2 linked regions of the Homo sapiens genome follow. The protein of the gene in region 1 interacts with the protein of each later gene in a pairwise test. Each region holds a gene or a part of one and is shown in the gene's direction. Other genes may lie near its edges.

Region 1 (7,927 bases):
GAGAGCAGCATTGTGCTAAGTACTGGAGGGTCCAGCATAAAAGGCTTGGTTCTCGTCCTGAAGTTGAGAGTCTGCTAGAGGCGACCATTGACAAAGGCCCTGGGTGTAAGTGCTGTGGCTTAAGAGGGGCAGTAAGCCCAGTGGTTAGGGGCCAGCTCAGAGCTAGACTGCAGAGGTTCAAATCCCAGCTTCACCACTTATAAGCTCTGTGGCTTCAGGCAAGGTCCCGAACCTGTCTATGCCTCAGTCTCTTCATCTGTAAAATGGGGATGATGATACCCCAGATTCATAGGGCTGTTGTGAGGATTAAATGTGTTAATACATGTAAAGCTTTTAGCACCACAGCTCGTGTGGTGTGCTGTAAGCATTAGCTAATGTTGCGATGACATAATTGTTTCTCTGATGTGCTCGGGTTGTCCTGGGTACACACAGCCCAGCCTGGGCAAATCAAGCAAAACTTCCCCCAGGAGAAAATCCCTGAGAACTGAACTAAGGCACAGAAGGGAGTGAAGGGCTTTCCAGGCTGGAGGAAAGCTTGTGCCGAGTCAGGGGTGTGAAAGAGCATGGTGTCCGGCGGGACAGGAGTGCTGGGTCGGGGTTGGAAAGATTGTGTCTTATGGAGAAGAAACGAAAGGGTTCTAGTGGAGAATGCGAGGCTGGAAGGAACAGCAGGAGCGCGTGGTGAGAGGAGGTGTGGAGGGGATGGGTCAGCAGTGCCTGCGTCTTCCCCTGCCCTTGGGAGCCCATCGAGGAAGTGGATGTGACCGTTTTCCAGGTGAACAGATTAGGTCATAATGAGACAAGGTGTTGGCTGAGCTGCCCCCACCTGGCTCCTCCAGCAGCCAGAGGAGTTAGCTCATGGTTGGCGAAGGCTCCTCCAAGGAGCCGCTGTGGGCCTGGGAGCCAGGGAGCTTGTTGGAACAGCAGTCTCTGTGTGTGGCATGGGTCCTCGGCACTGGCACACAGAGCTGCAGAAAGGCTGACGCGCCCCCCCAAGGGCTTGTCCCCACTGCTGCTGGGTGGCCTGCCTGGCGGGGCGTGCCTGGGCCTGGTGGGATTACAGGGTCTGATGTCGTTTTTCTAGACACCCTAGGTCCCAGGTCTGGCAGCGTCCTTTGGCTTCCTTCTCCGGCCCCTCCACCCCTAGGAACGACCCAGGTTACATGTAAAGAAAGCCCGTTTGTTTAGAGTGTTGGGGGGCTCTTCCTCCCGGGGCCTGGGCCCCAGGAGTCCCTGGTTTGTCAAGCGAGGGGAGGCCTCCACTGCTTTTCCAGCCCAGGAAGCTGCCCAGTGCTGGCATCTGTTCCCCGGCACCCGGCCAGCACCTCTCTGCCGGCTCAGGCCGGGTCCAGCTCAGTGCCCAGTGAGCAGTGACAAGCTTTTCTGCTGTCACGTCCCTGCGCCTGTGTGGGTGACATTCCAGCTGAGCTCCTGTGCCTAGTGGGAGGGAAGAAACCCCTTTGGGCTTGTTCAGGCACCAGGGCACCCAGGGGGACAGTGCTCCCCAAACACTGACGACCAGGAAAACACATGCTGCTTGAGCAACTCCTCGCGGTCTGACTGTGCTGGGGGCAATCCCATTCCTGCAGCAGCTCCTCACCATCTGGCTGTGCTGGGGGCAATCCCGTTCCTGCCAGCTACGGGTGACCACCTGCTCTAAAATAGTGACTCCCCAACTCAGGCCTCTCCACATTGCACACACGCCTATTCAGGTGGGTACAGCTCTTTACAGTTTAAAGAGAGCTCTCACATACCAGGTTCCATAGATCCTCAGCCATTGCACAGATTAGGGAACTGAGGCCACGAGGAAAGGACTGAGCCTGGGTGCTCGGCTTGTCAGCAGTGCTGGGACCAGAAACCAGGCTTCTGGGGCCTGGCCTTGGTCTGCCATGCAGAGAGCACAGGGTGGAGTCTCTCCAACACCCCGAGCCGTGGGCGGGGCATTCACAATGTGAGCAGAGAGGGAAGGGAGCAGGCATGGAATGGTTTTAGTAAGTGGAGCTGTTCTCTCCCTTCTATGGCAGAACAGACTCCACTAAGTTTTGAGACCTGAAAATCTGGGGGAGGTGGGATCAACTGACTTCGTGTCGTTTGGTGTCCAGGGAAGGATGTGAGGGGGCAGGGATTGTCTTGGGCCACCCAGCAGGTCAGAGACCAACAGAGTGTCTGCTCAGTGCAGTTGGAGGGTCATGATCTGTCATGTGACGGTGATATAACTCTGATAGGTTATGTCATCTTAATAATGACATTTTAAAAACCATGACTAAGGCTACATGACTATGTCTAGGGCTTCCTGTAGACCAGGCAGTGTGCTGAGAGCTCACATTTGTAACCTTATTGAATCCCTGATTAGGACTTACGAGGTAGATGTTATTATCCCCAGAACTAGCCTCATGGCTGTGGGCAGTGGCACAGGGCCCCTCGTGTGGGTTCATGCTCTGCTGTCCCTGTCTTGAAATTCTTAGAACTTTTTTTTTTTTTTTTTTTAAGACAGAGTCTCGCCCTGTCGCCCAGGCTGGAATGCAGTAGTGCGATCTTGGCTCACTGCAACCTCTGCCTCCTGGTTTCAAGCGATTCTCCTGCCCCAGTCTCCCAAGTAGCTGGGATTACAGGCGTGCGCCACTACGCCCAGCTAATTTTTGTATTTTTAGTAGAGACGGGGTTTCACTATGTTGGTCAGGCTGGTCTTGAACTCTTGACCTCGTGATCCACCCGCCTCGGCCTCCCAAAGTGCTGGGATTACAGATATGAGCCACGGCGCCCGGCCAATTCTTAGAACTTTTTAAACAAGGAGCCCCGCATCTTCGTTTCATACTGAGCCTTGTGAATTATGTAGTCGTTCCGGTTGTTCTCATTTCTCAGAAGAGGACACAGAGGCCCAGAGTGGTCATGAAGCAATGTGCCAGCGTCACAAAGCCAATGGCTGCCCTGGAGCTCTAACCCAGAGCCCACACTCTCCAGAGTAGAAAGAGGCTGAGACAGAGTCAAATGACTGTGCCCAGGTCCAGCTGCTGGCACCTGCCTGTGACCAGGAGGTGAGGCACTTCACCTGCCCTAGCCTCGATTTCTCCTTGGTGAAATGGGGTGATCCCGCCTGCCTCTGGGGGCTACTTTGGGGCTCACATGGGCAGATGTGCACACTGTGTTTTCTGCACTTCACCAAGCTCAGCAGATCTGAGGACCATCACTAGCTGGTCACAGTTCACAGGGGCTAATGCCCGTGCCACCAGATGGTCCTGACATGGTCTATGCAGGCCTTCACCTGAGGTCAGCAGTTCCAGACCAGCCTGGCCAAGGTGGTGAAACCTTGTCTCTACTAAAAATACAAAAAATTAGCTGGGTATGGTGGCAGCTGCCTGTAACCCCAGCTACTCGGGAGGCTGAGGCAGGAGAATCGCTTGAACCCAAGAGGTGGAGGTGGCAGTGAGCCAAGATCACGCCATTGCACTCCAGCCTGGGTGACAAGAGTGAAAACTCCGTCTCAAAAAAAAGAAAAAGAAAAGAAACCAATAATTGAAATAAATTGTCTGCAATACAGTTACAGACTTGTAGCAGTTTCCTACCCTGAGAGGAGCCCCTCACCCAGCAGTGGTAGCCCAGTGGGATGCCCTCACCTCTGCAGTGGGAGCCTGCTGGTGGGGGAGGGGGTGGGCCACCAGGGCTCCTCATCCATGTTATCTCCTCACAGAACTCAGGGCGGGAGGGTGCTGCTCATCCGCCTGCAGTTGAATCCTCTCCAGGAAGCTTTGATGGATCTAATCAGAGCTCCCCTGCCAGGGAGAAGGAAGCCCTGTAGGTGCAGCTGCCCCAGACATGCTCAAAACAGATCCTGGCACCTCAGCAAAGAGGCAGACGGCGCCTGGGAGGGGCCCCAGAAAGCAGCTGATAAGTCTTTAGATTTGGACAGATTCTGACCGTGAAACTGCACAGGAGACTCCCATGAGTACATTTCGCATTTGCGGACTTAGCGTGCTAAGTCTTCAGAGAGTGCCGGTGAATTTTAGTTCTGCCAATCTGCTAGAACATAGGAGGTTGGTATTTATCACTCCCATTTTACAGATGAAGAAAATGAGACTTAGCAAGCCTGACAAGACGTAGAGCTAGGCCATCTGATCCCAACTCTAGTGTCTGCATCTGGAGACAGTGGTTCTCCACCCCGGCTGCACACTCGGATCATCGGGGGAGCTGAACACTGCTGTCTAAGTCCCATCTCTCGACCAATTGAATCAGAATCCAGTTCCTCAGGGGGATTCTCGCTTGCTCCAAGCAGAGCTGGAGGTGACAGCGGGTTTCTCTGCTTACCAGTTGGGGTGGACTATTCCTTCTCATTCTCCATGGATGCCCCTTGCTAGGGCAGGCTCGTAGCCTAGGGCGGCAGAGGTCGGGCAGCAGGACGTCCTCCATTCACATCCCCACCACAGGCTGGGGCTGAGGAAAACGTCTGGACTGGAAAGTTCTGCTCTCCTTTCTTAAGCGTCTGCGTGCCATGTCGGAGAGGAATCCCAGGACACCGCGAGGTGGTCCTGCTGCCTGTTCAGCTTTTGCCACCCTCATCTTAATTCTTTTCCCTCCTATCCTCACCTCCCTTCTGCCCAGTTCCCCTCACTCCAAACAAGTAATCATGACTATGGCTATTCCCTTCCTTTTTTTTTTTTTTTTTTTTTGGCCGGGATGTTTTTAGGCATTTACAAGTCAGTAACAATCCCTCTTTCTTTCTCCTTTTTCACCCCAAGGGTGGCCTACTCTCCAGGCTGCTGAGAATCTTGCTTTTCTTCATTTAAGCTTTATCTCAAACATCATTCCATATCAATTCATTCTTTTTTATAGCTGCATGTCCCCCAGCACAGATTTTTTTTTTTAAAACACACCCTTAAAATCCAGGGCTTACCACCTGGGTCCAAATCAGATGTCTCCTACTCTGATTCACCCATGTCCACTGCCCACCCCATGGACCTCGGACCACAGAGTCTGGAGGCTGCGGTCTCTTCTTACTGGGAGTTAGATTTCTACCCTGTGTCTGATGTTATGGGGTAGGAGCTGGGGCTTATGCCTCCTCTCTGGAGATGGGGAGGCCACATCAGATCCCATAGCTGAAGTCTTTACCAAACAGGTGCTGCCATGCGGGCACTTAGGTGAACACGAGAAGCCTCGTTCTAGAACAATGAGTCACAGCCTGCTTGTTTAGCCATCCAGCCCAGGTGCCACCGCCTTCTTCCCTCCACAGCTGCAGGTTTATTTGCTTCTGTCTCTGAAGAGGTGAGGTAAGGTGTTGTTCTTGGAGGAAGAAGCTAGGAGCGTAGAGTAAGACCTGGATGTAGAAACGGCTGCTGGAGGACAGGACCTGTGGTGGGTGGAGGTGGTGAGGGGGCAGTGGCACCTGGACGGAGCAGACCCACCTTAGCCTGTGTGGGGTGCGGTTTCCCTGCTGGCTGGCTCTGGGGACCCCCCGGCTGTTGCCACAGAGAGGAAAGACCTGTGGCCTCAGATTCAGACAGCCTGAGCTTGTCCCCACAACTTATTGCTGGGAGATCTCGGTGAGTCATTTAACTTCTAGGATATGTGGGTTCCTCGTGTGTGAAATGAGAATAAAAACAAATCCCTGCAGACTTGCTGGGGGCATTAAATAAGATAGTAGAGGCGGAGTCGTTTTTATATAAATGGTAAAACACTGCACAATTTTTCAATTGCTCATTAACTTCTCTGCATTGAATTAAGGCATTAAAATGATCTCACTTCCGTCCCGGACTAGCCATGAGAAGCGCAGCCACCAGTCCACTCTGAGCCTCAGTTTCCCCTCCTGTGGAGTGGACGTGCCCGCCTCTGAGTGGCAGGGCAGGGATCGGGACTGATGCGGTTCTCATCCCTCCCACAGGGTCTCCAGCCACCTGCCCTTCCCGAGAAGAGAGAGCTCTGGGCCTTCTTCCTGCCAGTCTGGTCTTCGAGTGCGTTCAGGACAGATAGACCTTGGCACAGGCTGCCCCGAGATTCCTGCGACGCTGTCTGTTCCTGCCTTCTGTGGAGCATGGCACCCACAGGCTTCCAGGACGGATCATAGACCCGAGCCTCCAGGAGGGCGCCCTGTGCGGCTCACTGCGCGGTCCCTCTCAGCTCCCCTGCCACCCAGCCTCTGAGGCCGGCTCCTGTCCCGGAAATGCCCTCGGGCACCTGGATGAGGCCATCCCAGAGCGGGACCCAACTGTGCCACCCACCAAGCCTCCCCCTGCGCCCCCCGTGCCCTCGCATGTCCGGCTGCCAGGGCAGACTGTAGAATGTCTGTGCCCCAGATCCACGTGGAAGAAGTGGGTGCAGAAGAGGGGGCGGGAGCAGCCGCACCACCCGATGACCACCTCCGGAGCCTGAAGGCCCTCACCGAGAAACTGAGGCTGGAGACCCGCAGGCCCTCCTACCTGGAATGGCAGGCCAGGCTGGAGGAGCATACCTGGCCCTTCCCGAGGCCGGCTGCGGAGCCACAGGCGAGCTTGGAGGAGGGGGAGCGTGGGGGGCAGGAGCCCTTGCTCCCCCTGAGAGAGGCTGGGCAGCACCCCCCTTCTGCCAGGAGTGCCAGCCAAGGTGCCAGACCCCTGTCCACTGGCAAGCTGGAAGGCTTTCAGAGCATCGATGAAGCTATAGCCTGGCTCAGGAAGGAACTGGTGAGTGGCTGCCCCCAAGAATCCCCAGAAAAGAGGAGATGCCACCGTCTCTCTGTGTCTTTTTCTGTCTCTCTCTGTCTGTCTCCCCACCCCCACCATGTATTTCTTCCCCTCTCTCTAACCCCCAAGTGCACATCTGTAATCTTCCCGTGAGTTGAAGGCAGGCGTCATTTGTATGTGGCTGGGGGGACCCAGGTGTCATCAGCCCCTAATTGCAGACACTAATGAAGGAAGCAGGTGTTTTCTGGCAGAACCTGAACCCATGTTAAGGTGTACCCCCCTCCCCCCAACACCGCTCCCAGTACTGGAGTCTGGCTCCTGGGGTGTGACTGCCCCTCCCTCTGTGCTGGAACCTCCCCACCCTGCTGTCCACCCCAGCTGCCTGCCACTCCGGGGACCACTCTTCTGCACGTGAGCGGCCTCTTCTTGTGCTGGGCGCTGGCCGGGTGGCTCCATGGGGCACAGTGGCTGGGGTGTGGCTGTGCAGGGCGCTGCTGTGAGGAGCTGGCTCGGTGTGGAATGTGCTCGAGTGGTGAGGAGTTGTGGAGCTGCCCAGAGTCGGCGGGATGGGTCCTGCCTGGGGAGAAGCTCGGTGAGGAGGCTCAGAGGAGGAGTTGGCTCAGAAGTCAGGGCGGGGCCAGGTGTGAGGTAAAGGCACATTGTGTTTGAGCTGGGACCGCAGCGCGGTCACTTTCCTGCTCATAGGCAAAGCAGATTCCCAATAGGAGCATCTTTTGTGCATGGTGACTCAGCCTGAGAACAGGGTGGGGGGGCAGAGCTGGGTGCCCTGTCCCCTTCCACCCCCCCAGGGGAGAATCACCCGTGTCTGGCACGACAGCCTCTCAGCAGCACCAGGCATGAAGCTAACCCTACCCCAGCTCTCAACCCCTGCCCCACCCCGTCCCTGAGGCCCAGGTGACACCTGCGAGTCAGGCCACTCTGGCCACAGGTGAGCCAGCCATCAAGGGCAGCTGCCTTCCAGAGCCGGCAGTGGCTCTTGGGTCAGCTGGGTAGGCTGAGGCCTGCTTGGTTTGTTTTGCAGAATCCCGAAAACTAAATCCCCATGAGGCCTGGAATGCCTCAGGGGCTGAGAGAATCCACTGGGGTTTGGAGTGGGGCAGGGCTCAGGGACGCAGGGATCTGACTGATTAATTGGAAGCCTGTTTGCGTTTTAACACTTGATACCGAGAGTGCTTCTCAGAACACACCATTCTATTATATCCGTCTTTAGTAACGAGAGGGTGCATGTGCTGTCGGCTTCGGAGAAGATGAGGCAC
Region 2 (7,927 bases), on another chromosome or scaffold:
ATTATGCCAGAAGTTATGCTAAGTGCTTTATATACATTATTTCATTTAATCTTCATGATAACCCAGTGAAGGTTAATATCTCCACTTTATTGGTGAAGAAACTGACACTCAGCAATCCAAATTGGTTGTCCAAGATCAAGCATATTTAAATGTCAAAATCAATATTTGAAATTTGAATTCAAATTCAAAATATTTTCAAATTTTCTTTCTAATTTTTTCTTTGACCCAGGGATTATTTAGAAGTGTTATTTAATTTTTATAGCCGATCATACATGGTCTTATCTTGATACCATATGTACTTCAAAACAATGTTTTTCAGATGTTGGGTGTAGTGTTCTATAAGTAACAATTAGCTTTAAATCATTTATGCCTTTTTTGAATTTTTTTATCAATTGCTGAGAAATGAGAGTTAAAAATCTCTTCATATAATTGTGGAATTGTCCGCTTATTTTAATTATGTCAATTTCTGCTTTATGTACTTTGAAGCATTAATATTAGGTGTATATACATTTATGATTATTATGTCCTCTTGATGAATTGGTGATTTTACCTTTATGAAATGTCCCTTAGTAATCTTTTTTTTTTTTTTTTTTTTTGTGAGATGGAGTCTCGCTCTGTCGTCCAGGCTGGAGTGCGGTGGTGCAATCTCGGCTCACTGCAACCTCCGCCTCCCGGGTTCAAGCAATTCTCTGCCTTAGCCTCCTGAGTAGCTGAAATTACAGGCACCCGCCACCATGCCTGGCTAATTTTTGTATTTTTAGTAGAGACGGGGTTTCACCATCTTGGCCAGGTTGGCCTTGAACTCCTGAGCTTGTGATCTACCCGCCTCGGCCTCCCAAAGTGTTGGGATTACAGGTGTGAGCCACCACGCCCGACCAGTAATAATCTTTGTCTGGATGTCTACATTATCTGATATCAATTTAGCCACTCTAGTTTTCTTACTCTTATTGTTTGCCTGGTGTATCTCTTTTCATCCATTCATTTTCAGCCTGGGTCTTTATATTTAAAGTGCATTCTTTCAAGATAGCATATAGCTGGATCTTACTTCTTTTCATTCCTACAGTATCTGCCCTTTAATTGCAGTACTAGTCCATTAACATATAATGTACTTACTGATGTGGTTTGATATATGTCTACCATTTTATTATTTATTATTTGTCACCTCTGCTTTGTTTATCTTGTTCTTTTCCTGCCTTCCTTTGGATTATTTGAATATTTAAAAATTACATTTCATCTCTTGTATTTTGAAATTATAACACTACACATTATCTTTAGTAGTTGCTCTGTGATTACAATATACATTCTTAATTTTTCATAGTCTTCCTGGAGTTAATGTTGTATTACTTCACATAACATGTAGAAACACTGCAACTAAATAGATCAATTTACTCCCTCAGCCTTTAAGCTATCATCATTATATGTATTATATTTATATACTTTTGTAAAGCCGATGAGACATTGTTATAATTTTTACTTTAAACAATAATATGTATTTCTTCTTAAATTAAAGGCAAAACTATATCCCTTTTATCTACCCAGATGTTTACCATTCCTGATACTTCTTATTCATTCTGTAGCTTCACATTTCTGTCTGATGTCATTTCCCTCAGCCTGAAGTACTTCTTTTAGTATTTCTTATAGTACAAATCTGCTGGTAATCAATTCTCTTAGTTGCCTTTTATCTTTAAAACATCTTTATTTTTTTTTTAATTGAAGGCTAAATTCATTGGATATAGAATTCTGCATTGAGAGAACCTATTCGTGGGTTTTTTTTTTTTTTTTCCTTTTAGCCTTAAATAAATGTGCCACTATACTGGCTTTTAAAATTTCTCATGAAAATCAACAATCATTTGAATTATTGTTCCCCCATATGTGATATGTCCTTTTTCTCTGCCCTTTTCAAGGTCTTTGTATTGATCTTTCGTTTTCAGAACTTTTACTGCTTTAAGGCCAGGAGTGGTTTTTTTCACATGTACCCTACTTGGTATTTGCTAAGCTTTTTTGTATCTGTAATTATATGTCTTTTACCAAATTTGAATTTCTTTCAGCCATTATTTCTTCAAATAGTTTTTCTGCTCCACTTTCTCTCCATCTTCTTCCCTTCTAAGATTCTAACTCTGTGTGTGTAGACCTTTTGATATTGTCCCACAGGTCTTCGAGTCAGTCTTCACATTCTTCACCAATACTTTTTCTCTTTTATTTTTAGATTATCTTATTTTGATTGGTCTATCTTCACATTCAGTGATTCTTTTCTCTCTCATTTTCATTCTGCTCTAAATCCATCCAGTGATGGTTGTGTTTCAGATTTTGCGATTTTTAATTTCAGAATTTCCATTTGGTTCTTTTTTTGTATGTAACCTCTCACCTGAGATTTTCTACCTTCTCATTCATTGAGATAATATTTTCCTTTACATCATTGACCATAGTTATAATACCTGTTTTAAAATACTTGTCTGCTAATTCCACATTTGCAGCATTGTAGAAAAAGCCTTCTCTAATTGTCTTTTCTTTTGAGAATAGGCCATATTTTCTTGGTTCTTCATATGTCAAGCCATTGTCTATTGGATCCTGGATATTGTGACTATTATGTTCTGGAGAATCTGGATTCTACTATATGATGAATAGTTTTTATTTTTTTAAGCAGACAATTAATTTGGTTAGATTCAAACCATAAACTTTGTCTCTTGAGCAGCAGCTGAAATCTCAGTTCAGTTCTTTTCTACTTAGCTAGACTGCTTTGCACATGTGTGGCTCAAGGCCAATCAGATTTGTGTAAAGTTCATTCACAGGATCTGGGCTCTATTTCTCTGACTCTCTCTTTTTTTGGGTGATCTTCCCCTCACTGTTGAGGGACTATAGTTGTCCAGAACTCTGTATTCTTATTCTTCTAATATGAAAGATGGTATGTTTTATATGAGAATTTTGCCCACCTCATACTCCTGCCAACTGCAGATTTCCCTCAAGCTAAAAGCTATAAAGAATAGGAAACTCATGTACAAGTGCCAACTTCCCTCTAGAGTCTGTCTGATTTTGTTTACTCTCTAGTGTCATCATTGTTTCTTGCATTTCATCCAGAGTTTACAGTTGTTATTTGCAAAAGGGTCAACTTGATATGAGCTTCCTTGGCCACACTAGTGAAACACCTTAAGTGTACCTAAATCTAAAATCCATGCGCTGGGAGCTTGGGAAGATATAGAAAGACAATGTATAACTAGGTATTTCCGCCATCACAAATTTTAGCTTTTACTTTTCTTTATTAAAACCGCTTCTTTAATGAGTCAAACGCACACACACACACACAGACACACACACACACACACATACAACCTCACAATTTAGGATAACTTAAGAAAGGATTGATAAAAGTCTGAGACATGGGTTTGTTTCAACAAAATCATACATATATTCAAAGTGATAAATCTGAGCCTCAAACTATGCTGAAAAAGAACTGCCTAGTAAGAGAGGGGTAAGTGTCTCAGGGAGCATGATTTTCCTAAAGAAATGAGAAGCATTTGTTGTCAGAATATCACAGAATTTTAATGTGGAAAGGACTGTAGGAATGATCTAGTCCAAGCTACTCATATGTCTGTACATAAATTAATAATTCACTGATTCATTAAATAAACATTTACTGAATACCTTTGGATTATGTGCCAGGCACAGCACCAGTTGTAAGATGCACAATGATGCTTGCAAGGTTTTTTTGTTATCTCAGACTTCATCCCTCAATTTTATTGACATTATTTTGACTTTGAATAATGTATTTGATAAAGAAAAGATAATTTTATCTCAGACACTGTCCAAATGATTGAAAATCCTTCTAACAATGGACTCAAATTTTATAAGATTTTGCTAGATTTCTTTTGGTCTCATTGAAAAACAATATAGGCCGGGGGCAGTGGCTCAACCCCCATAATCCCAGCACTTTGGGCGGCCAAGGTGGGCAGATCATCTGAGGTCTGGAGTTTGAGACCAGCCTCGCCAACATGGTGAAACCCCGTCTCTACTAAAAATAAAAAAATTAGCTGAGCTTGGTGATGCGTGCCTGTAATCCCAGCTACTCAGGGGGCTGAGGCAGGAGAATCACTTGAACTCGGGTGTTGGAGGTTGCAGTGAGCCGAGATCATGCCACTGCACTCCAGCCTGGGCGACAGAGTGAGACTTCATCTCAAAACAAAACAAAACAAAACAAAACAAAACAAAAAATATATATATATGCAAGATTACATCTTTTGGGCCAGGATTGGCGGTTATGATTGTTTGTTTGACATTTATTTAGTGCCATCCTATCATCTGTACCTTCTTTCTATAGCCAGTTCCCAATTAAAAAAAAAACAACAACTCAGACTTGCATGGGGTGTTTCATTTATTCATTCATGGAATATTTATAAATACAAACGGTATTCAAATCATGGTCTGTAGTTCTGATTCCAAACTTGCTGACTTCTAAGCTAATCAGGACCAGTGAGGAAACAATCATAATCACACATATATTTAGTTGCTCCTAACTGGTAACCATAATTATTTTTAGCGAAACACATATAGTAAGTGTTAGTATACAAAGTTCAGGGAAATAACATCTCGGATAGTTTATTTCTTCAGTTTAAGAAGTACAGATATCTTCAATACCCCTGAGAAGTTGTTGCTTAATAAAGGTTTATAACATGAATAAATTATGATTCTGACATCAGGAGTCACATTAGAGTTGGGAAATGTGTTGTTATTATAGAGGAAAGAAGAAACCTAATGATAAAATATTTTCAGAGCATATATTCTCAGCATCAGTTTTTATTTGGATCACATTATTCTGTTATGATAAAGGTCTGTACAATTACTTCTGTTAAAAATTATTATTTCTTTTAAAAAATCCTGTTACATAATTTGAACTTGGTAGGCAATCAAATTCAGTATAATTTTACTTGCCAACAACGAAGCAAGCTTTCATATTAACAATTAATCAGAACTGAAAGGAATCCTAAAATGTCTGTATCATTTGTCAGCCACGTAAATGTCTCTATCTTTGGTAGGATGTAGCAAAATTAAACCCTTTTATTCAAAAAGAATAACAATCGCAAAGCAATTCTCAATATAGATATGGAGGAAATTGGAGCTCATTGTTAGTGGCTAGCAATGAATGGAGAGTTTTGATTTAGGAGAAAAGAGAACAGAAATGATATAAAAGTTAATTTGCAATTCTTCAATGTTAACAAAGCGGAAGAAGGAAAATTAGATGTTTCACTTTAGAGTTAAAGAAGATTTGAAACTTAATATTGCTTTCAGATTCAAAATTTACATTGAACATTTTAATTACCCTATGTGACACATTTAATGATTGTTCTTTCAAAAACAAAATAATATCCAGCATGTTTGGAAAGATTCCCTTTTATATTCTTGAATGGCTGTAATTGAGCTATGCTGTCTTAGTTTCCTTTTTTAAAGCTTTTTGATGAAAGTTTTTTCTCACAAATAGAAAATTTTTATTGTGATCACTTATATTTACAAAACTTGGTAATATAATTATGTGGTTAATATGCCATGGTTTTTACAGGGAAATATAAGATCTATTGTTCTCCCTTTACCAAACCAGAGAAACACATGATCTGTCTCATCCATCAGTAAACTCAAGTGGCCTTTTTTTCAGGCCACAGCCAAGAGATCAAAATCGTGTGACTGTGTGTTTGTTAGAAATCGCTGCAGTTCATTCACTCAGCAAGAGACGCATCATCTTTAAAACAAGTCTATTCATCACTGACTACAAATTCAAGGCCTTCACAGCACCTGTTCTGAGTAACTATGTACTCACAGCTGAAACCTTTACTCATACATTTATTTTGGGGCTGAGCAGCTTTAGCTCTAGAGAACTGAGAAAAAACATCCCACCTACTCTGCACACTTATCTCCTTTAGGTGACCTAATGCTGAGTTCTATAAACCCGGGGTGCATTTAAACAAAATGTTTTGCTTTTTATCCGCAGGAAGAGGCGCTTCAGCGGGCACGTGAGGAAGAAGAGAAAAGGAAGGAAATCACAAGCCATTTCCAGAGTACCCTCACGGACATCCAGGGCCAGATCGAGCAGCAGAGTGAGCGAAATATGAAGCTCTGTCAGGAGAACACAGAGCTTGCAGAAAAGCTGAAAAGCATCATCGATCAGTATGAGCTCAGAGAGGAGGTGAGAACCACATCAAACAACTTAGAACAGTACATAGATCCGGATCTGGGAGCTAAAGGTGGGAACTTGGTTAATAAGACAGTTACAGCCAGCCCTCTCAACTGATTAATATTTAGGATTGGATTTCCTTGACGAGCCAAAATGAAGACAGATGGTCTTACAAAATACCTGACTGAAAGTCATATGGGATTTCTTCAAAACTGGCATCACTACAAAGTAAAGGCAATAAATAGAAAGTGATAGGCTGTGGGCACAGTTTTCCTTGAAAATAATATTTCTCAGCCTTTTAAAAATCCTCTCTCTATAGCCAAAAATAACTCACGCACTCCCTCTTAAGAATTGCCATGTCATCTAAATTAAGAGTCTGTATTCTGGCCAGGCGCGGTGGCTCACGCCTGTAATCCCAGCACTTTGGGAGGCCAAGGCAGGTGGATTAAGAGGTCAGGAGTTCGAGAGCAGCCTGGCCAACATAGTGAAATCCCGTCTCTACTACAAATACAAAAAAAAATTAGCCAGGCGTGGTGGTGGGCGCCTGTAATCCCAGCTACTCGAGAGGCTGAGGCAGGAGAATCTCTTGAACCCAGGAGGTGGAGGTTGCAGTGAGCTGAGATCACGCCACTGCACTCCAGCCCAGGCGACAGTGTGAGACTCCGTCTCAAAAAAAAAAAAAAAAAAAAGAGTCTGTATTCTATGTACCCTACCAGGCCAATAATAGTATTAATAATGTAATCATTGTAATAATAATGATATCATTTATTCAGTGGTTAGTTTGTATCAGGCAATGTGCTAAGTGCTGTACTTTACATACCATATGGCATTTAATTGTCTCAACAATCTTATGCATTAGATAATAATATATTATCCATATCTTATAGATGAGAAGCAGAAGCTAAGAGATTAAACCACTTACCCACAGTCACAAGAGGCAAAAGCCTTTTACTTTGAATAGGTTATATTAGGGGGATGATCAAGGTCTTTTGTTATACCCAAATTATATTTTAATATTTAATATATTTTTAAGATTCCAGATACCCTCTCAGGATTTTGACACATCATATTCCTTTCCCTATCCCACCCAAATTTTAAATCTCTGCTTTAAAATGTAACATAACATAGTCAAAGCGGCTCTGTTGGTAACATGCTAAGATTTTATCAAGCACAAAACTGAGCCAACAGCATATGGTCGCGGTGGTTAGGTAAATCAAGAAACTCCTAATAGTAAGCCAAAATGCCATGCTACCATTTTATCTTGTCATAAGGATCAATCCCGCTCCAGAATGGAGGTTCAGACTAAAGAAGATAGGAAGGAGTGAAAGGAAAATGTCCATATTCTTCAGAGAGATCTCAGATGGGAATGGGCTGCTATGCTAGTTGTATATTCCTGGGACTGGTTCTAAGTAAAGCCCAAGGGGAGAATTCCATGTCCTGTTTCTGATTGGACCTCCCAGTGACCAGGAATTTATCCATCCTGAGGTAGAGTTGGAAGTTTCTCTTGACCAAACTAGTCCAGAGGTCAAAAGGTGTGGCGAGCTCTGCACATTTGCGACTCAATTTCTCTATGACCCTTGGCCTTGTCATCTCCACCAGAGCAACAGAGTAGAATTCAGGGGGGCTCAGGCCTCACTCCCAGACCTCGGACCACATGCTGGCACCCCAAGGCTTTCTCACAACGCCAGAGGCAAGAATGCAGAGAATTCATCATGATAAATTGCACAAGTGTTGCAATTAAAAGTGGTTTTATATTCACAGAAAGAGCCA

The links. The genes of interacting proteins can lie anywhere in the genome.
Region 2: the proteins of FAM167A (region 1) and TXLNB interact in binary tests that used the Homo sapiens proteins (3 or more experiments, as listed by UniProt).

What each region holds. Positions count from the first base shown.
Region 1 is NC_000008.11:11,442,754-11,450,680, reverse strand, and holds part of FAM167A (protein FAM167A), read left to right. Parts: intron 1-343; exon of another isoform or gene 344-681; intron 682-3,907; exon of another isoform or gene 3,908-4,278; intron 4,279-4,665; exon of another isoform or gene 4,666-5,534; intron 5,535-5,872; 5' UTR 5,873-6,269; coding exon 6,270-6,650; intron 6,651-7,927.
Region 2 is NC_000006.12:139,260,821-139,268,747, reverse strand, and holds part of TXLNB (beta-taxilin), read left to right. Parts: intron 1-5,974; coding exon 5,975-6,169; intron 6,170-7,927. UniProt on the Homo sapiens protein: Promotes motor nerve regeneration. May be involved in intracellular vesicle traffic.